Linked DNA regions of Homo sapiens: regions 1, 3 and 4 are each linked to region 2. Evidence: fine-mapped expression QTL. A gene starts in region 2. Each other region holds a variant in brackets. All regions are shown on one strand. Distances are from middle to middle.

The links.
Region 1: its variant is fine-mapped to the expression of GZMM in whole blood (INTERVAL, PIP above 0.99).
Region 3: its variant is fine-mapped to the expression of GZMM in whole blood (TOPMed, PIP above 0.99).
Region 4: its variant is fine-mapped to the expression of GZMM in whole blood (TOPMed, PIP 0.98).

The regions. Positions count from the first base shown.
Region 1 is chr19:569,735-574,916 of GRCh38, forward strand. BSG (basigin (Ok blood group)) reads left to right here and starts at 2,862. Exons shown (of 9, transcript NM_001728.4): 1 at 2,862-2,967. The coding sequence starts at 2,901. It overlaps BSG-AS1 (BSG antisense RNA 1), which reads right to left and starts at 2,514. Exons shown (of 3, transcript NR_184018.1): 1 at 2,375-2,514; 2 at 1,706-1,862. RefSeq lists enhancers at 1,110-1,682, 1,763-1,812 and silencers at 2,633-2,852, 3,023-3,202. The variant C/CAT (reference allele first, on the strand shown) is at 2,352.
Region 2 is chr19:541,401-546,622 of GRCh38, forward strand. GZMM (granzyme M) reads left to right here and starts at 2,653. Exons shown (of 5, transcript NM_005317.4): 1 at 2,653-2,726. The coding sequence starts at 2,672. It overlaps CDC34 (cell division cycle 34, ubiquitin conjugating enzyme), which reads left to right. Exons shown (of 5, transcript NM_004359.2): 5 at 1-687. The coding sequence ends at 152. RefSeq lists an enhancer at 2,021-2,666.
Region 3 is chr19:514,120-519,119 of GRCh38, forward strand. TPGS1 (tubulin polyglutamylase complex subunit 1) reads left to right here. Exons shown (of 2, transcript NM_033513.3): 2 at 4,770-5,000. Among named protein-coding and RNA genes, the nearest start is that of MADCAM1-AS1, 8.7 kb to the left of the region's middle. RefSeq lists an enhancer at 4,339-5,000. The variant T/C (reference allele first, on the strand shown) is at 2,611.
Region 4 is chr19:578,378-583,593 of GRCh38, forward strand. BSG (basigin (Ok blood group)) reads left to right here. Exons shown (of 9, transcript NM_001728.4): 3 at 1,123-1,279; 4 at 2,002-2,084; 5 at 2,269-2,405; 6 at 2,938-3,214; 7 at 3,929-3,953; 8 at 4,137-4,205; 9 at 4,373-5,116. The coding sequence ends at 4,200. Among named protein-coding and RNA genes, the nearest start is that of BSG, 8.4 kb to the left of the region's middle. RefSeq lists an enhancer at 5,000-5,216. The variant A/C (reference allele first, on the strand shown) is at 2,416.

The DNA of each region.
Region 1 (5,182 bases), 28 kb after region 2:
TCCGAGATCGCTCATGTTTTTTAGGTCACATTGTCATCCCACCCAGGATCTTGGGCCAGGAATTTACGCTCCGCTGAAAGGACGTTCTGACCGGGGGGTGTTCACGCTCCCAGACTAACACAGCGGCCTGTGAATCATGGTTCTCTCTCTCCTGAGACGAGAGTACTGAGGGTAGACATTAATTCAGCCCAAGCGTACAGCTGTGGCCCCAGAAATTGGTCAATTTGATCCGCGAATCCAAAAGGGTCATCTAACAGTGGTTTGAGTTCTTTTAGATTTCTAACCTCTGAACTGGTTAAAGGGGGCATTTACGAAGTCAATATCCCTTCCTCCCGGTGGTCCTTCCCTAAAGGGGAAAAGGGCTGAGGCAGGTCTTTTTGAGCAGGAGGCAAAAGGAAAGTTCTGTGGGTTTTTGTTTGTTTGTTTGTTTTTTGAGACGGAGTCTCGCTCTTGTTGCCGAGGCTGGAGTGCGGTGGCGCGATCTCGGCTCACTGCAAGCTCCACCTCCCGGGTTCAAGACATTCCCTGCCTCAGCCTCCCGAGTAGCTGAGTAGCTGGAATTACAGGCGCCCGCCACCACGTCCGGCTAATTTTCGTATTTTTAGTAGAGGCGAGGTTTCATCATCGTGGCCAGGCTGCCAGTCCTGAACTCCTGGCCTCGTGATCCACCCGCCTCTGCCTCCCAAAGTGCTGGAATTACAGGCGTGAGCCACCGCGCCCGGCCGAAAGTTTCGAATATCCCTTTGGCATTGTTCTGTTTCCCGTTGGAGCTTTCCTGAGGAAGGGGCATGTTCTAGTGGCTGTCCAGCGGGGATGTGGGTGGCAAGGTCCAGGTGGTTCTATAGGGGAGGGATGGAGGGGCGGAGGAGCGGGTGGGGGAGGGGCGGAGGGGCGAGGGGTGGGTGGGAGGGGCGGAGGGGCGGGTTGGGGAGGGGCGGAGGGGTGGGGTGGGTGGGTGGGGGGGGCGGAGGGGTGGGTTGGGAGGGGCGGAGGGGGTGGGTTGGGAGGGGCGGAGGGGGTGGGTTGGGAGGGGCGGAGGGGGTGGGTTGGGAGGGGCGGAGGGGGTGGGTTGGGAGGGGCGGAGGGGTGAGTGGGGGAAGGTGGTCTAGAGGATCCCACCCTTCTTTAGATATGGGGCGTCTCTGCTAAAAATACAAAAATTAGCCGGGCGTGGTGGTGCGCGCCTGTAATCCCAGCTACTCAGGAGGCTGAGGCAGGAGAATCGCTTGAACCCGGGAGGCGGAGGTTGCAGAGAGTCGAGATCGCGCCGCTGCACTCCAGCCTGGGTGACACAGCGAGACTCCAACACACACACACACAAAAGATATGGCGCGTCTCATTCATTCACAAGTTCCTCTTCAAAGGTTTGGCTCGTTCAGCGCCCTCGTTCTTCGTTTCCTACTTCCAAGGCCAACCTGACTTCCTCACCCTCTGGGCCTCCCCGTCTGAGTCTCAGTAAACAAGTTTCCCGCCGGTCCTGATCTGCAGAGATGGCACCTGCCACCCACTCTGCACATCCCCCTCCCGTCGCCACGGGCTCTTCCCGCCAGTGTAGCCACATTCCTGCCCCTTTCCAGTTAGCCCTTCGCGTTCGGCTTAGTCTGCGGTCCTCTTGCATTGCGACTCCGAGTTTAACTTCCAACACACACTTTCAACCTCCAAGAGACGCCCCCACCTGTGTCGCCCCAATAGCGACTTTTCTCACCGTGGTCGCCGCGGAACTTCAAGGGTCCTTCCTACCCGCGTTGCTGAGAGTCTGGGTTTACGCGTCACCTCGGGCGGGACCCGATCCTCCGCTCCTGAGGCCCCCACAATGAAGCAGTCGGACGCGTCTCCCCAAGAAAGGTAACCGCCAGCCTCTCCTGAAACAGAATGGGATCCAAATGGGATATTTGGGGGCGGCGAGTCGGTCCCGCAAAGAGAAACCAGCACTTAGAAAATTTCTCAGCGAGACCACTTTACTTGTACGGAAGGGGGCTGCCTGCGTGGGATGCAATCTCCAGAGCACACGGGACAAAGGAAGGGAGCTTCTGTTCCTCTGTCCTTTCCCTGTTGGCTGGGGTTGGACGCCCACAATCTAAGCTGATCCCGGTTGGCTAAAACTTAAAACTTTTTTAAAATAGGGTAAACGCGCCACCTGCGAGGAAAGAAGAAGGGGGTAAGGTTGATTGACAACTTTAGACCTGGAAGTTGAGTTTCTGAAGAGGAACTTACTTGTCCCAACCAAATGGTGCACAGGACGTTTATACTAAGAAATTATTCATTTTCTGAGATCCAGATTCAAGTGCCCTTTAAGTATTTTTATTTGGGCGGAGGAGGTCACTTCCTCCCACCTAATTTATTAATACGTT[C/CAT]ATATATATATATATATATGTACATTTTTAAAGGCAGAGATGTGCGTCTCGCCATGTTGCCGCGTCTGGTCTCGAGCTCCCGGGCTCAAGCGATCTTCCCGCCTCGACCTCCCAAGGCTCTGGGAGTACAGACGTGAGCCACAGCGGCCGGCCCGTGTTTAACTCAGATAAAATCTGGGTAACACACTTTCAACGCTTCAACCCCCTCGGGCGCACCGCTCTGCGCTCATTGCAACTTTGAAAGCAGGAAGGAAGAAATGCGCAGGCTCCAGCCGCGTCCCCGCAGGCCCCACTCCCGTTTCCTAGCAACGCCGGGTCACGTGCGCCGCCGCCCGGATTCCGTAGCGTGAGCCTGCCGGAGCCGGCGCGTACATGCGAGCGTGTGCGCGCGTGCGCAGGCGGGGCGACCGGCGTCCCCGGCGCTCGCCCCGCCCCCGAGATGACGCCGTGCGTGCGCGCGCCCGGTCCGCGCCTCCGCCGCTTTTTATAGCGGCCGCGGGCGGCGGCGGCAGCGGTTGGAGGTTGTAGGACCGGCGAGGAATAGGAATCATGGCGGCTGCGCTGTTCGTGCTGCTGGGATTCGCGCTGCTGGGCACCCACGGAGCCTCCGGGGCTGGTGAGGAGCGGGTAGGGGGCGGGGGTGCGGTCCTGCAGGGGCCGGGAATGGAGGCCGCGGTGCCGACCCGAAGCCGACGGGAGCCTGGGGCCTCGGCGCGGGGCGGCCTGGGGTGCGAAAGGCCGGCCCCGGGGGCTTCCCGCGCCAGCATGGAGCTTGGGGGTGAAGTCCCAGGGTTTGAGGGGGGACTAGAGGTTCCTCCCGGCGCGGCCTGCCGGGCTCCCCCGGGCGCTCCGGCCTCGAGCCCGGCCTCTGTGTGTGGGCGTGAAGCTCCCTGCTTGGAGGCGGGAGCCAGGGGGTCCTGGCCAGGCCGGTCTTGGTCAGGGGAGGTGGGCGTCTTGCTTTTCGGTCACCTGGGGTTGGGGGTGACCTGCTTCCTGGGTGAGGGCGTCTGCGAAGGCGGTTGGAGGTGGCCCGCCCGCCGGTCCCATCGGCCAGGAGAAGGGAGACCCAAAGCCTGGGTGAGCGTCCCCTTTGGCCTGGAGCCAGGGGTCAGGGGCTGGTTGGTGCCTGCCCAACCCGTCCTGCTGGGGCTGGACTCCGCAGGACCTGGGGAAAGCGGCCTGGGCGTGGAATCTGGAGACGGGTCCACCCTGCCTGCGAGTGTTAGGGTCAGAGACCCTCCCCTGAGACTCTCTGGGGCCCCCGCAAGGGCCCGTGCGGCCTGGAGCGATCATCTTGGCGCTCCCTTCTGGAAAAGGGGCTTTTGTCCTCCAAGAGCACATGGAGGCTCTGAGTGGGTCAGCCCTCCGGATCGGGAAGGGATTACCGTTCTTCACGGGATTTAGCCCTGGCGTCTTGCCTAGGGCGTGCACCTGCCCCCGGGTGTTCTCCCAGACTCTTAAGACCTCGCAGGCTCCCTCGAGGGGCCCTGCGTGGAAGGGAAGGCGGAATCTCCCTCTGATTCTGCCTGGATTCAGCACCCAGAATGAGGTGGTCTCTGAACGCCCCTCCTCCTTTACAGGCGAGGAAACAGCCCTGTGGGAAGTCGAGGTTCCAAGGTCACAGTGAGGGGGCCCTGGCCACCCGATTCAGCGCAGGAAATAGTGAGAAAGTCGTTTTTAGCCGACTCTGACCCGCATTCGGTTTCCAGTGCTGTCTTAGGAGGGCCGTGTGTTGAGGGTGGGCAAACGTGGTTTGGAGAGCGCATTTGGGAAATGGATTGAGGTGTGTTTTTCCGGGAGAAAAGCATGACATCCTTTCTTGCTTCATAGAAAATTTCTTCCTTTGTTGAGACCCCCATTTGGTTCTGGGTTAAAGATTTATAGTGAGGCCGGGCGTGGTGGCTCACACCTGTAATCCCAGCACTTTGGGAGGCTGAGGCGGGTGGATCACCTGAGGTCAGGAGTTCAAGACCAGCCTGGCCAACATGGTGAAACCCCATCTCTACTAAAAATACAAAAATTAGCTGGGCGTGTTGGCGCACGCCTGTAATCCCAGCCACTCAGGAAGCTGAGGCAAGAGAATCGCTTGAACCTGGGAGGTGAAGGTTGCAGTGAGCTGATATCATGCCACTGCACTCCAGCCTGGGTAACAGGGAGACTCTGTCTTTAAAAAAAAAAAAAAAAGAGGTCGGGCATGGTGGCTCACGCCTGTAATCCCAGCACTTTGGGAGGCCGAGGCGGGCGGATCACGAGGTCAAGAGATCAAGACCATCGTGGCTAACACGGTGAAACCCCGTCTCTACTAAAAATACAAAAAATTAGCCTGGCGTGGTGGCGGGCGCCTGTAGTCCCAGCTGCTAGGGAGTCTGAGGCAGGAGAATGGTGTGAACCAGGGAGGCGGAGCTTGCAGTGAGCCGAGATCGCGCCATTGCACTCCAGCCTGGGCGACAGAGCGAGACCCCGTCTCAAAAAAAAACAAAAAAAAAATTTATTGTGACCGATGTGTTGGGAACAAGGTGCAGAGCTGGAGGGTCTGGCCTCCTGAAGGGTCAAGAGCAAGGGCTTCGAGCCTCTGTCCTGGGCATTGAGCCGTAGGGGGCCTTGGGCAGAGGCTGGGGAGGGGGCTCCTTCTTCCAGAGGCTTTGCCAGCTAACTCCTGACCTACGTCTGAGATTTCGTCTTCCTGGTAACCAAAGTGGCCCTTTATCGAATGTCTCCTGGGCAAGGGCCTGGCCCCAGCACTGCGGCCAGCTCTCTGGGGAGACACAGATAGGAGCCCATGGGTGAGGTGAGCGCGGAAGATAAGCCGCCCCCGCCAGCCCTGTGGAAAC
Region 2 (5,222 bases):
TGGCCGAGTACTGCGTGAAGACCAAGGCGCCGGCGCCCGACGAGGGCTCAGACCTCTTCTACGACGACTACTACGAGGACGGCGAGGTGGAGGAGGAGGCCGACAGCTGCTTCGGGGACGATGAGGATGACTCTGGCACGGAGGAGTCCTGACACCACCAGAATAAACTTGCCGAGTTTACCTCACTAGGGCCGGACCCGTGGCTCCTTAGACGACAGACTACCTCACGGAGGTTTTGTGCTGGTCCCCGTCTCCTCTGGTTGTTTCGTTTTGGCTTTTTCTCCCTCCCCATGTCTGTTCTGGGTTTTCACGTGCTTCAGAGAAGAGGGGCTGCCCCACCGCCACTCACGTCACTCGGGGCTCGGTGGACGGGCCCAGGGTGGGAGCGGCCGGCCCACCTGTCCCCTCGGGAGGGGAGCTGAGCCCGACTTCTACCGGGGTCCCCCAGCTTCCGGACTGGCCGCACCCCGGAGGAGCCACGGGGGCGCTGCTGGGAACGTGGGCGGGGGGCCGTTTCCTGACACTACCAGCCTGGGAGGCCCAGGTGTAGCGGTCCGAGGGGCCCGGTCCTGCCTGTCAGCTCCAGGTCCTGGAGCCACGTCCAGCACAGAGTGGACGGATTCACCGTGGCCGACTCTTTTCCCTGCTTTGGTTTGTTTGAAATCTAAATAAAACTACTTTATGAGAGGCCAGAGAAGCTGTGCTTGGGAGGGAGAGGCAGCCTCCACGTCCATGAGTGACTGCACACGGCCAGTCCCACTGGGACCCTGGCTACGCCAGGTGTGGATCTGGGAGGCCTGTCCTGGGAGGCACGGGGAGCAGCCGGGTCCCGCGGCCTGTACGTTCCCATGACTTGGGTCAGACAGGCCTGGGCAGCATCCCCCAGCCTGCGGGACAGGGGCGGCCAGAAAGCCCCCAGAGTTCCTCCTCCCTGTGACCAGGTGCATCTAGTGGGACGGGAGCTGCCTCTGCAGGCATCCAGCAAAGCTTCGTCGCGGGTCCACAGCCGCCTGGGCGTTGATCTCAGCGTCTCAGGGCTCCCAGGACCACAGATGCCCCCGATCAGCACTCCGGCGGCTCCAGCTCCGTCCAGGCACACCCTCGGGGTGGGGAGCCGTGGCCCTGGGCACACAGGGCAGGCACCTCACGTCCTGGTGTCAGGAAGTCCCCAGCATCGTTTTATTACATGTCATGGAGGAAAGCTCGGAGCTCCCATGCCCTCCCGGGGCACCGCCTTCCAGGAACCTGCCTGCGTTCCGCTTCTGGGCACCCGGAAAGTCGCTCAGTGGCTGATTCAGGGTCGAGGAGCTGTGAGGATGAGGTTTCCCACCAAGTTGGGACAGAAAATGGGGCCCTGGGGTCTCAGCAAACCATGGCCCTCGGGACCAAACCTGGCGTCCGCCCCTATTGTGAGTGAAGTGTTACTGGCACAGCCACACCCAGGTCTCAGGATCATCCATAGCTGCTTGGTTTGGTTTGGTTTTGTTTTTGAGACACAGTCTTGTGTTGCCCAGGCTGGAGTGCAGTGGTGCGATCTCGCCTCCTGGGTTCAAGTGATTCTCCTGCCTCAGCCTCCTGAGTAGCTGGGACTACAGGCTCCCACCACCATGCCCAGCTGATTTTTGTATTTTTAGTAGAGATGGGGTTTCACCATGTTGGCCAGGATGGTCTCGAACTCCCAACCTCAGGTGATCGCCCGCCTCGGCCTCCCAAAGTGCTGGGATTACAGGCGTGAGCCGCCGCGCCCGGCCTAAATTTATTTATTTTTGAGACAGGGTCTTGCTCTGTCACCCAGGCTGAAGAGCAGTGGTGCAATTACGGCTCACTGCAGCCCCAACCTGGGCTCAAGCGATCCTCCTGCCCCAGTCTCTCAAAGTGCTGGGATTACAGGTGTGAGCCACCGCCTTCGGCCAGTGTCTTTATTCATGAAGACCAAAAACTAGAACAGCGCAAATATCCGTCCGCTGGTGAATGCATAAACACAGCGTGGTCCAGCCACACAATGGGATGTGACACAGCCACAAAAAGGAGCGAGGCTCTGACACAGGCCACAGCCTGGATGCACCTTGAGGACGTCATGCTGGGAGAGACGCCAACGCAACAGGTCCTGTGTGATTCCACTCCTGGGAGGTCCCTAGAGACCAATTCAGAGGCAGGAAGTAGTGGCCGGGCGCGGTGGCTCATGCCTGTAATCCCAGCACTGGGAGGCCGAGGTGGGTGGATCACCTGAGGTCGGGAGTTTGAGACCAGCCTGGTCAACATGGTGAAACCTCGTCTCTACTAAGAATACGAAAATTAGCCGGGCGTGGTGGTGGGCACCTGTAGTCCCACTACTCGGGAGGCTGAGGCCGGAGTATGGCGTGAACCCGGGAGGCGGAGCTTGCAGTGAGCCGAGATCGCACCACCGCACTCCAGCCTGGGCGACAGAGCGAGACTCCATCTCTGAAAAAAAAAAAAAAAAAAAAGTGTTACTTTGTCAGGTGTGATGATGGTAGTGTGGCTTCATCTCGAGTCCTCTTTGAGAAACACTTTCTAAAATGCTCAAGGATGGAGGGTGGAGGGTGTGCAGCGGTGGGCGGGGCTGTGACCGTCACCTCACCTCCCCCACAGGAAGCGCGTGTGGGGAGGCTCGGGGCCGGGGCCAGCACCCACACTGGGTCTCCACAGCGGCATGGAGGCCTGCGTGTCTTCACTGCTGGTGCTGGCCCTGGGGGCCCTGTCAGTAGGTGAGTGGGAGCCGGGATGCAGGGGGGACACTGAGGCCCAGCGCTCTCGGTGGGTCCCTGGATGGGAGGGGTGGGCGCGGGCGCCGACATCCTGGGTGTAAGAGCGGAGATTCATCCTTGTTTGGAGGGGGACTGAGGCCTGGGGCATCCCGAGCTCCTCACGCTTCACCCCGAGTGGACATCCCGGGACCGTGGGAGAGTGTGGTGTCCACCGGCTCACCTCGCCCATCCTCCCGGCAGCAGCCAGAAGGCAGGGGTCACGCTCACACCCGAGGTGCAGAGTAGGAGACTGAGACTTGGCGAAGGAGATGCTGACCTAGGACTGCCCAGCTGGGAGGGCAGAGCTGGGACTCGATCCCCGCTGGCTGCCTGCCACCACCAAGGGCTTGGCTGGGACTAGGTGCCCAGCAGTGAGGGAGAAGGGAGGTGGGTGGCGGCTCCCCTGCATTCCAGCTGGACTGAGTGACAGGGGCTCTTGATGAGTTGGGGACCCAAGAAGATGGACAGAGGTAGGAATCCAGCCGTCAGTCATCATCATCCTTCCTCCCATTTTTATTTCCTTCCACCCATGGGTCCATCATCCCTCCCTCCCTCCCTCCCTCCCTCCCTCATCTCCCCTTCCTTCCCTCTACCCGTCCGTCCACCCATCATTCCTCCTTCCATTCTTCCACCCACCCATCCATCATCCATCCCTCTACCCATGGGTCCATCATCCATCCCTCCCTCCCTCCTTTCGTTCCCCCTTCCTTCCCTCCGCCAGTCCATCCACCCATCATTCCTCCTTCCTCCCATTCTTCCACCCACCCGTCCATCCATCATCCATCCCTCCTTTCAACCTCCCTCCTTCCCTCCACCCGTCATCCTTCCCTCCCTCCTTCCATGTATCCACCCATCCATCCATCATGCCTCTCTCTTCCTTTCCCCCCTCCTTCCCTCCTCCCTCCCATCCATCCATCATCCATTCCTCCTTCCATCCCTCCTTCCTTTCTCCCGTGCTTCTGTGTATCCATCCGTATTTGCAGGGCTCGTGCTGTTCTAGGCCTGCCCTCCTGTCTGACTGGAAGAGACAGGCCAGGCATGAGACTGTGCAGAGCGGAGGAAACACGGAGGGCAAGAGGGCGGGTGGGGGGCCGTTGCAGGAGACGAGCATAAACCAAGGGAGGAAGCCGGTGGGGGAAAGGTACGCAGGCAGCTAAGTGAGACAGACAAAGGCCCAGGGTGCAGGCAGCTTGCAGGCACAGCTAGACTTGCACTCTTGTCACCCAGGCTGGAGTGCGATGGTGCCATCTCGGCTCACTGCAGCCTCCGCCTCCTGGTTTCAAGCGATTCTCCTGCCTCAGCCTCCCGAGTAGCTGGGATTACAGGCGCCTGCCACCATGCCGGGCTAATTTTGTATTTTTAGTAGAGACAGGGTTTCCCCGTGTTGGTCAGGCTGGTCTCAAACTCCCAACCTCAGGTGATCCGCCTGCCTCGGCCTCCCAAAGCGCTGGGATTACAGGCGTGAGCCACCGCGCCCGGCCTATTTTTTTTTTTTAAGATGGAGTTCTGCTATTCTTGCCCAGGCTGGAGTGCAATGGCACGATCTCGGCTCACCACAACCTCTGCCTCCCGGGTTCAAGCGATTCTCCTGTCTCAGCCTCCCAAGTAGCTGAGATTACAGATGCCCGCCACCTCGCCCGGCTAATTTTTTGTATTTTTAGTAGAGACGGGGTTTCACCGTGTTAGCCAGGATGGTCTCGATCTCCTGACCTCGTGATCCACCTGCCTCGGCCTCCCAAAGTGCTGGGATTACAGGCGTGAGCCACCGCACCCGGCCTTAATTTCTGTATTTTTAGTACAGACGGGGTTTTACCACATTGGCCAGGCTGATCTCCAACTCCTGACCTCAGGCTGTCTGCCCACCTTGACCTCCCAAAGTGCTGGGATTATAGGCGTGAGCCACTGCACCGGCCCGCAAGCGGGGACTTGATTTTCAAAGCATGATGGGGATTCAGAGAAGATTTTGAGCTGATTTACGTTACATTATGAAATCAATCCTTTTATATTTATGATTGATTTAAAATAATTTTTGTACAGCTTTATTAGGAAATTATGCACTATACAATTTACTTATTTAAAGACTACATTTCTTGCTGGGCACAGTGGCTCACGCCTGTCATCCCAGCACTTTGGGAGGCCAAGGAGGGTGGATCACCTGAGGTTAGGTGTTTGAGGCCAGCCTGGCCAACACGGCGAAACCCTGTCGCTACTAAAAATACAAAAAAATTAGCCGGACGTGGTGATGCGCTTCTGTAATCCCAGCTACTCGGGAGGCTGAGGCAGGAGAATCGCTTGAACCCAGGAGGCAGAGGTTGCAGTGAGCTGAGATCACGGCACTGCATTCCAGGCTGGGTAACAGAGTGAGACTCCATCTCAAAAAAAAAAAAAAAATGGCCAGGTGCAGTGGCTCATACCTGTAATCCCAGCACTTTGGGAGGCTGAGATGGGTGGATCACA
Region 3 (5,000 bases), 27 kb before region 2:
TACTGTACACCAGCCCTGTATTACTGAGCACCCACTGCACACTGACCCTACATTTACTGAGCACCTATTGCATGCTGGCCCAGCATTTACTTCACTCCCACTGCACACCGCCCCAGCATTACTGAGTACCTACCGTGTACTGGCCCTGCATTCACTGAGCACCTACTCTACACCGGCCCTGTATTACTGAGCACCCACTGCACACCGACCCCACGTTTACTAAGCACCTATTGCTTACTGGCCCAGCATTTACTGAGCACCCACTGCACACCGCCCCAGCATTACTGAGTACCTATTGCACACCAGCCCCACATTTACTGAGCACCTATTGCATTCTGGCCCAGCATCACTGAGCACCTACTGTGTACCAGCCCTGCATTACTGAGCACCTGCTGCACACCAACCCTGCATTTACTGAGCACCTACTGCATGCTGGCTTAGCACTTCCCCGGCACCTACCACAGGTGGCCCACAGAAAGGTGAAGTCGTGTGCCCAGGTCATGCCGGAGGGAAGGCTGCCCTCCTCACCATGAAGCTGAGCTCCCAGAAGGGAAAAGCGTAAGCCCTGAGGTTGGCCACTTCCTCTCTGGGACCCTTGGCCAGACCATGGGGCTGCCCTGAGCCTCAGTTTCCCTATATGTCCCAGAGGAAGTAACAGGCCACTAGCATGAGGCCTGGCCGGGAACTGATGGGGGGAGTGAGGCCAGGGGGTTAAGCAGCCCACCCAGGGTCCTGCAGCGGCCCCCACGCTGGCCACGGTGCTCCCTGGCCACTCCCTGGTGCCCTCCACGGGAGTGTGTGTCACACTACCAGCACACGAGTGGCACGTAGTAAGGCCTCAGGCTCCTCACTGGGGCAGGGAATCGAACCCACCCCAGAGCCGGCAGCAGGGCTGACAGCCTTCTTCTGTAAGGGGCCAGATAGTGAACATTTCAGCTTTGCGTGGCAGCCTCCATCCTGACATTCAGCTCTACGGTTCTGGTCGGAAGCTGCCACAGGCCACATGTCAGCGGACTGATGTGGTTATGTTCCGATAAAGCTTTATTTACAAAAGCAGGCAGCAGGTCGTATTTGACCCTCAGGCTGACTGTGGGGCCTTGCCTGTGGGATTGTGGGGAGAGAAATACCACCACTGGCCCCGAGCAGCAACTGTCACCTGTAATCCCAGCAGTTTGGGAGGCTGAGGCAGGAGGATCGCTTGAGCCCAGGAGGTGGAGGCTGCTGTGAGCCCTGATTGTACCACTGCTCTCCAGCCTGCACAACACAGTGAGACCCTGTCTCAAAAAAAAAAAAAAAAGAAAAAATGCAATGTCAGCTGTGTTAAATGTTCAGCACAGACTGGGCGCAGTGGCTCACACCTGTAATCCCAGCACTTTGGGAGGCCGAGGTGGGCGGACCACGAGGTCACTCGAGATCCAGACCATCCTGGCCGACATGGTGAAACCCCGTCTCTACTAAAAATACAAAAATTAGCTGGGTGTGGTAACACACGCCTGTAATCCCAGCAGCTCAGGAGGCTGAGGCAGGAGAATCGCTTGAACCCGGGAGGTGGAGGTTGCTGTGAGCTGAGATTGTGCCACTGCACTCCAGCCTGACAACAGAGTGAGACACTGTCTCAAAAAAAGAAAGAGGGCCGGGCGCGGTGGCTCACGCCTGTAATCCCAGCACTTTGGGAGGCCGAGGCGGGTGGATCACGAGGTCAGGAGATCGAGACCATCCCGGCTAAAACGGTGAAACCCCGTCTCTACTAAAAATACAAAAAATTAGCCGGGCATAGTGGCGGACGCCTGTAGTCCCAGCTACTTGGGAGGCTGAGGCAGGAGAATGGCGTGAACCCGGGAGGCGGAGCTTGCAGTGAGCCGAGATCCCGCCACTGCACTCCAGCCCGGGCGACAGAGCGAGACTCCGTCTCAAAAAAAAAAAAAAAAGGAAGAAAGAAAGAAAGAAAAGAAAAAAACAAATGTCAGTTGTGTTAAATGTTGGGCACAGTATTTGGCCACATGTAAACAGGCGCTGCTGCTGCAGGGAGGGAGACCAGAGGGTCCTGGTGTTGTGGGACAAAGAGTGGAGAGACCGAAAAAGGTTCAGGAGAGTTTATCAAGGTGATCACCGGCTCAGCTGGACATACATCCAGAAAGTCTGAGCCTCGAACAAAGGGCTTTTCCTATTTTTAAACATCGTAAGGCGGGAACTACGTGAGGCGGGAAGCAAGTTACAGAGGCGAGAAACAAAGGCAGTTAAGCATTACAGCATTTCTTTTTTCTTTTTCTTTTTTTTTTTTTTGAGACGGAGTCTCGCTCTGTCGCCCAGGCTGGAGTGCAGTGGCGCCATCTTGGCTCACCGCAACCTCCACCTCCCAGGTTCAAGCGATTCTCCTGCCTCAGACTCCCGAGTAGCTGGGACTACAGACGTGTACCACCACGTCCCGCTAATTTTTGTATTTTTAGTAGAGATGGGGTTTCACCATGTTGGCCAGGATGGCCTCAATCTCTTGACCTTGTGATCCTCCCACCTCGGCCTCCCAAAGTGCTGGGATTACAGGCGTGAGCCACCGTGCCTGGCCAACATTTCTCACATCTTGAGAAAAACATGTCTTACAACCTAAACTTA[T/C]CGGTTTTGTGACCCTGCAGCCGTGCTAGGGAGGTAAGCAGGAACTCGCTGGGCCTGTAATAAACTGAGGAATGTGGAGTTGGAGAGTATAGATAAGGTCCACTGACTACAGAGAGAAGACAGGCTGTTAACATTCTCTTTTAACTTGAGTGTAAGGGTGGGGGTCACACTTTGCAGCAACTTTAAGAGGATTTTAAAATTTCTATGACTACTACTATTAGGTTAGAGCTGATTTCACTAATTCCTTCTTCACTGGGGCCAGATGCCCCAGACAGATGCCTGCCGTTGATTCAAGACATTTACTGAGCACCTACTGTGGGCAGGGCAGTGTTCTGGGCACCAGGGCTATAACCAAGACGAACTTCCGGCCCTGGAGGGCAGGTGCTCACACTGGTGGGAGACATGAAGCTCACAGGGATGTGGGACAGCGAGTGAGACAGGATGACCACTAGGAAGAAAACAGGAGGAAAGGAGTTAGGGGTCAGGGGAGGCGACATTTGAGGAGAGACCTGGAGGAGACCAGGGAGGAGGTGAGGGAGATCTGGGGGAAGGCAGTGTCACGGCCCTTGCAGAGGCCCTGAGGCCGGTCCAGTTGGAGCTGGGAAGCCAGGGCTGGATGGGAGCTGCGGGGAGGAGAGGCCTGAGCTGGGTGGAGGCTGGGAGGGGGGAGGCCAGGCTGGGTGGGGGCTGGGAGGGGGGAGGCCAGGCTGGGTGGGGGCTGGCCAGGCTGGGTGGGGGCTGGGAGGATGGAGGCCAGGATGGGTGGGGGCTGGAAGGGGGGAGGCCCAGGCTGGGGGGTGCTGGGAGGACGGAGGCCAGGCTGGGTGGGGGCTGGGAGGGGGGAGGCCAGGATGGGTGGGGGCTGGGAGGAGGGAGGCCAGGCTGGGTGGGGGCTAGAAGGGGGGAGACCCAGGCTGGGGGGTGCTGGGAGGACGGAGGCCAGGCTGGGTGGGGGCTGGGAGGGGGGAGGCCAGGCTGGGGGGTGCTGGGAGGAGGAGGCCGAGGCTGGGTAGGGGCTGGGACGGGGGAGGCCAGGCTGGGTGGAGGCGGGGATGAGGGAGACCCAGGTTGGGAGGAGGAGGCCGAGGCTGGGGGTGCTGGTGGGGAGGGGAGGCCCGGGCTGGGCGGTGCTGGGAGGAGGGAGGCCAGGCTGGGTGGGGGCTGGGAGGAGGAGGCCCAGGCTGGGTAGAGGCTGGGAGGAGGGAGATCCAGGTTGGGAGGAGGCCCAGGCTGGGTAGAGGCTGGGAGGAGGGAGATCCAGGTTGGGAGGAGGCCGAGGCTGGGGGTGCTGGTGGGGAGGGGAGGCCCAGGCTGAGGGGGTGCTGGGAGGAGGAAGGCCTGGCTGGGTGGGTGCTGGGAGGAGGGAGCCCCGGGCTGGGGGGTGCTGGGAGGAAGGAGGCCAGGCTGGGTGGGAGCTGGGAGGAGGGAGGCCCAGGCTGGGAGTGCTGGTGGGGTGGGGAGGGGAGGCCCAGGTTGAGTAGGGGCTGGGAAGAGGGAGGCCCCGGCTGGGTAGGGGCTGGGAGGAGGGAGGCCAGGCTGGGTGGGAGCTGGGAGGAGGGGAGGTCCAGGCTGGGTAGGGGCTGGGAGGAGGGAGGCCCAGGCTGGGAGTGCTGGTGGGGTGGGGAGGGGAGGCCCAGGTTGAGTAGGGGCTGGGAAGAGGGAGGCCCGGGCTGGGTAGGGGCTGGGAGGAGGGAGGCCTGGGCTTGGGATACTGGGGGGAGGAGAGGCCAGGGCTGGGAGGGGGCTGAGAGGAGGAGGCCTGGGCTGGAGATGCTGGGGGAGGAGAGGCCCAGGCTGGGGATGCTTGGGGGAGGGAGGCCTGGGCTGGGAGGGGACTGGGAGGAGGGAGGCCTGGGCTGGGGATGCTGGGGGGAGGAGAGGCCCGGGCTGGGGATGCTTGGGGGAGGAGAGGCCCGGGCTGGGGATGCTGCGGGGAGGAGAGGCCCTAGCTGGGAGAAGGGAGGCGGGGGCTCAAGAGAGGAGCTTCAGGGATAGAGGGTGAGGAGGAGGGGAGGCCGGGGATGGGGGGTAGGAGGAGAGGGGAGGCCAGGGCTGGCTGGGGGGTCGGGGAGGCTAGGGCATAGGCCTGGCGAGGAGGGGAGGCTGGGGCTGGGTGGGCGCGCGGTCTCTGCCGGCCCCCAACGTCCCCGTCTCCGCAGGGCCGCCTTCAACAACAACGTGAGCGTGGCCTACGAGTGCCTGAGCGCCGGCGGGCGCAGGAAGAGGCCGGGGCTGGACGGGCGCACCTACAGCGAGCTGCTCAGGCGCATCTGCCGGGACGGCCAAGCCCCCGAGGAGGTGGTGGCGCCGCTGCTGCGCAAGGTGCAGTGCCGTGACCACGAGGCGGTGCCGCTGAGCGTCTTCCGCGCGGGCACACTCACCTGCTTCGT
Region 4 (5,216 bases), 37 kb after region 2:
CCTCGTGCCATCCGTTCCGTCGTTTCTGCTTCCCCGGGCGCCTGCCCGGCTCCCTCCCTGAGCGTCCATACTGCAAGCCTGAGGGGCCCTCCAAGCTCAGCCCAGGCTTGCAGGTCTCAGAACCTTCTGTGTCCTTCGCAGCATCTCGTTCTAAGGGATTTTCAAATTTCAATTCCTAGCGGGAATATTGTAAACTAACCAAGAACCAAGAGATTTGCTTGGTTGGGGATTGGCAGAAGAACCGGGGTGCTCCCAGCACTGCTGGAGTGCCGTCAGCCTGGGGCTGGGGGGATGTGGGGCCACCTGAGTGCCTCCTAGAGAAGGGCACGGGAGCCTTGGCCGGGGGTGCTGTGGCTATTTTTTTTTTTTTTCCTGGAGATGGAGTCTTGCTGTTCCCAGGTGGAGTGTGGTGGCACAATCTCGGCTCACTGCAACTTCCGCCTCCCGGGTTCAAGCGATTCTTCTGCCTCAGCCTCCTGAGTAGCTGGGATTACAGGCATGAGCCAACATGCCCAGCTAATTTTTTGTATTTTTAGAAGAGACGGGGTTTCACCGTGTTAGCCAGGATGGTCTCGATCTCCCGACCTCGAGATCCACCCGCCTTGGCCTCCCAAAGTGCTGGGATTACAGGCGTGAGCCTCCGCGCCCGGCCACCACCGCGCCCAGCTGGCTACGTTTTTAGAAAAGAATTTCCAGTTTGTGCTGGGGCTGCTACAAGAGCTCGATGCCCTGGTCCCTGCTCAGGGACGTGGGTGGGTGCCTTGTCTGTCCCCACACCCTGGTCCCAGCCTCGTGTGTCTCTGGGCAGGAACATCGCCAGGCGGGGCCTCTGGGTTCCCAGCGCCTTAGCCCAGGGCCCGCCAGCTGCCAGCGAAGGGTGCCTTCCCGAAGGGGGTGCCTTCCCGAAGGGGCCTCCTCAGCAGGCGCTGGGCTCTTCCCTTCCCGGAGGCGTGGCCAGAAGTTCCCCTTGGGCCTCCGGTCCTCGGGGCGTAAGGGCCACGGTGTATTTTTGGGATGAAAACCAGTCCTTCCCGGGGAGGAGCCGCAGGTTCCTGGGGGTCAGGCAGGCAGCGCGGGCCGTGCTCCTCCACTCTGCTGACCGCGTCTCGCCGGGCCTTGCAGCCGGCACAGTCTTCACTACCGTAGAAGACCTTGGCTCCAAGATACTCCTCACCTGCTCCTTGAATGACAGCGCCACAGAGGTCACAGGGCACCGCTGGCTGAAGGGGGGCGTGGTGCTGAAGGAGGACGCGCTGCCCGGCCAGAAAACGGAGTTCAAGTGAGTGCCTGACCACGCCATGCCGCCACCTGCCCCTTCTCACGGCTCTCTTGCCGCCAGCGGCCTGTGGTCCGTGAGAACAAAAGACCGGTCGGCAGGCTTGATCCAGGCGGAAGTTAGGGACCAGCTCCGCGCAGACCCCCAGAGGGAAACCCCAGGGAGGGGTCTGAGGGGCGTCCTTGTGAGGCAGGGGGCTCCAGCAGCCCTGGCAGGAGTCCCCATTGCTTGCTCCTCACTAGGTCCCGGGCACGAAAGGGCGCCACACTGCCAGGTCCCGGGCACGTGTGCGGGCCTCCCAGGCTCTGTGCTCCTGGCACAAGAGGGCACCACACTGAGGCATGCCCTGCTCGGACCCCAGACGCTGTCATGGCCGGAGCTTTGTCATAACTGGGGCTGGGACGGCCCTGGGAGCACAGAGCCTTTTGTTTTCAGGCTGACTGGGAAGACGGTCACAGGGTGTGGGGTGCAGAGCAGGGACCAGAGGTGTGGGGTTCATCAGTCGGGGAGAAGGGGGTCTGTTGGTTCTCTCACCTGTGGGGTCTTGCCAGCCTGGCTCTGTCCTTGGGGCCGCACGGGGACCCCAGGAGTTCTTTTGAGGTTCAGACTTGACTGGGACAGTTTTGCTTTTTCACTGTGCCGTGGTTGGGCCCCTGGAGAACCCTGGGTCCTTGGAGGCGTCCTGCAGAGCTGGTACGCGGCTCACCTGCCTGCTGTGGTTGCAGGGTGGACTCCGACGACCAGTGGGGAGAGTACTCCTGCGTCTTCCTCCCCGAGCCCATGGGCACGGCCAACATCCAGCTCCACGGTGAGTCCTGCAGCCAGGGGTACCGGGCACCACCGACTGTCGGGAGAAGTTGTTGGCCTGAGGCACCCGGCACATCCCAGAGCCCTGGCCCCCTGCTCCCTGGAGGGGAACAGCCCTCCTGCGGGAGGCCGGGGATGGGGGCGGGCCTGCGGTTCCAGGCTCCTCTCTCTCACCCTCCTGTCAGGGCCTCCCAGAGTGAAGGCTGTGAAGTCGTCAGAACACATCAACGAGGGGGAGACGGCCATGCTGGTCTGCAAGTCAGAGTCCGTGCCACCTGTCACTGACTGGGCCTGGTACAAGATCACTGACTCTGAGGACAAGGTGAGAAGCC[A/C]AGGAGGCTGGGGGTCCTGGACCCAGCCCTCAGGACTGGGTGAGAGGCCTAGACTGGGGGTCCCGGACCCAGCCCTCAGGACTGGGTGAGGGGCCTAGACTGGGGGTCCCGGACCCAGCCCTCAGGACTGGGTGAGGGGCCTAGACTGGGGGTCCCGGACCCAGCCCTCCGGACTGGGTGAGGGGCCTAGACTGGGGGTCCCGGACCCAGCCCTCCGGACTGGGTGAGGGGCCTAGACTGGGGGTCCCGGACCCAGCCCTCTGGACTGCAGCCCTCCAGACTGGGTGAGGGGCCTAGACTGGGGGTCCCGGACCCAGCCCTCAGGACTGGGTGAGGGGCCTAGACTGGGGGTCCCGGACCCAGCCCTCCGGACTGGGTGAGGGGCCTAGACTGGGGGTCCCGGACTCAGCCCTCCGGACTGGGTGAGGGGCCTAGACTGGGGGTCCCGGACTCAGCCCTCAGGACTGGGTGAGGGGCCTAGACTGGGGGTCCTGGACTCAGCCCTTGCCTTTGGTCCCCTAGGCCCTCATGAACGGCTCCGAGAGCAGGTTCTTCGTGAGTTCCTCGCAGGGCCGGTCAGAGCTACACATTGAGAACCTGAACATGGAGGCCGACCCCGGCCAGTACCGGTGCAACGGCACCAGCTCCAAGGGCTCCGACCAGGCCATCATCACGCTCCGCGTGCGCAGCCACCTGGCCGCCCTCTGGCCCTTCCTGGGCATCGTGGCTGAGGTGCTGGTGCTGGTCACCATCATCTTCATCTACGAGAAGCGCCGGAAGCCCGAGGACGTCCTGGATGGTGAGCCGTCTGCCCTCCTGCCCACATGCCCTGCTCTCGGGGTGGCCCAGGGCCACTCCTGGTCCGTCCCTGCCAGCCCCACCGCTGACCCAGAGCTTGGAACTGAGGAGCCCCAGGCAGGGAGTTGATGGGACCCCGAAAGAAAGTGTGGGATGGAGGGTCTAGCCCCGGGCAGCTGCGGCTCAGTGGGCAGCGGGACCCCGGGAGGAGGAGGCGGCACCTCCGCCCCACAGCCTCACCCGGCCCTTCCCTCCCGCTCACTTGGCTGCAAGCCAGTGTCCTCCGTGGTGAGCCGGCCCTTGCTGCTCTGCATGATCAGGCTCGGGAACCTGAGGTCAGCCATGCTGTGCTCCGGCAGCCCCTGCCTGCCTCCTCGCGGAGCCCTTCTGCCCCTTGGGCTGCGTGTGCCGGGGCGAGGCCTGTGTGGGGCCTGTGATGGCAGCTCCTGGAAAACGCTGTGGGGCAGGGGTGAGGCCCACGAGGCCATGGGGACAGCTCACCATGGGGAGCACACCTGCAGGTGGGGAGGGCTGCCTTTCCCCACAGCACTCAGAAGATGCACGTGGCCGGGGCTGATGAGCTGCCCCGAGCCACCCCTGGGGGTCACTGAGGGCAGGGCTGGCAGCACAGATGCCCCTGCTCGGGGCCTGAGTGGGGCCAGTGCTGACAGGCTGTCCTCTCGTCCTCTTTTTCATGGCGGCGGTCCTTCTTCAGATGACGACGCCGGCTCTGCACCCCTGTAAGTTCCAGCTGTGGGGGTCGGGGGTCCCAAGGAGCGGCCTGCTGCCCCAGGCCTTTAAAACACAAAGGCAGAGCCCCTGGGCTTCAGTATTCGGGGGTCCTGGGGGCCGGGGTGGGCAGGGGTGACTTGGAGAGAGTGACTTGCGGGGGACACCCTCTCACCCGGCCCCTCGTGCCCCAGGAAGAGCAGCGGGCAGCACCAGAATGACAAAGGCAAGAACGTCCGCCAGAGGAACTCTTCCTGAGGCAGGTGCGGTGGGCGGGAGCTCCTCCTGAGCCAGGTGTGGTGGGTGGGTGGGCGGGAACTCCTGAGCCAGGTGTGGTGGGCGGGATCTGCTAGCCAGGTGTGGGCTCCTGGGTCCCGCCTGTGGGTCGCTGGGAGGTGGGTCCAGTCTGAGCGCCCCTCCCTGTCCACAGGTGGCCCGAGGACGCTCCCTGCTCCACGTCTGCGCCGCCGCCGGAGTCCACTCCCAGTGCTTGCAAGATTCCAAGTTCTCACCTCTTAAAGAAAACCCACCCCGTAGATTCCCATCATACACTTCCTTCTTTTTTAAAAAAGTTGGGTTTTCTCCATTCAGGATTCTGTTCCTTAGGTTTTTTTCCTTCTGAAGTGTTTCACGAGAGCCCGGGAGCTGCTGCCCTGCGGCCCCGTCTGTGGCTTTCAGCCTCTGGGTCTGAGTCATGGCCGGGTGGGCGGCACAGCCTTCTCCACTGGCCGGAGTCAGTGCCAGGTCCTTGCCCTTTGTGGAAAGTCACAGGTCACACGAGGGGCCCCGTGTCCTGCCTGTCTGAAGCCAATGCTGTCTGGTTGCGCCATTTTTGTGCTTTTATGTTTAATTTTATGAGGGCCACGGGTCTGTGTTCGACTCAGCCTCAGGGACGACTCTGACCTCTTGGCCACAGAGGACTCACTTGCCCACACCGAGGGCGACCCCGTCACAGCCTCAAGTCACTCCCAAGCCCCCTCCTTGTCTGTGCATCCGGGGGCAGCTCTGGAGGGGGTTTGCTGGGGAACTGGCGCCATCGCCGGGACTCCAGAACCGCAGAAGCCTCCCCAGCTCACCCCTGGAGGACGGCCGGCTCTCTATAGCACCAGGGCTCACGTGGGAACCCCCCTCCCACCCACCGCCACAATAAAGATCGCCCCCACCTCCACCCTCACCCTCTCCTGGCTCCTGTCTGTGCCTGACGGGGTTGGGTTTTCCGAGAGCAGGTGCACCCTGGGCTCTGGTGGTCACAGCAGGGGTGCGTCCAGTACTGG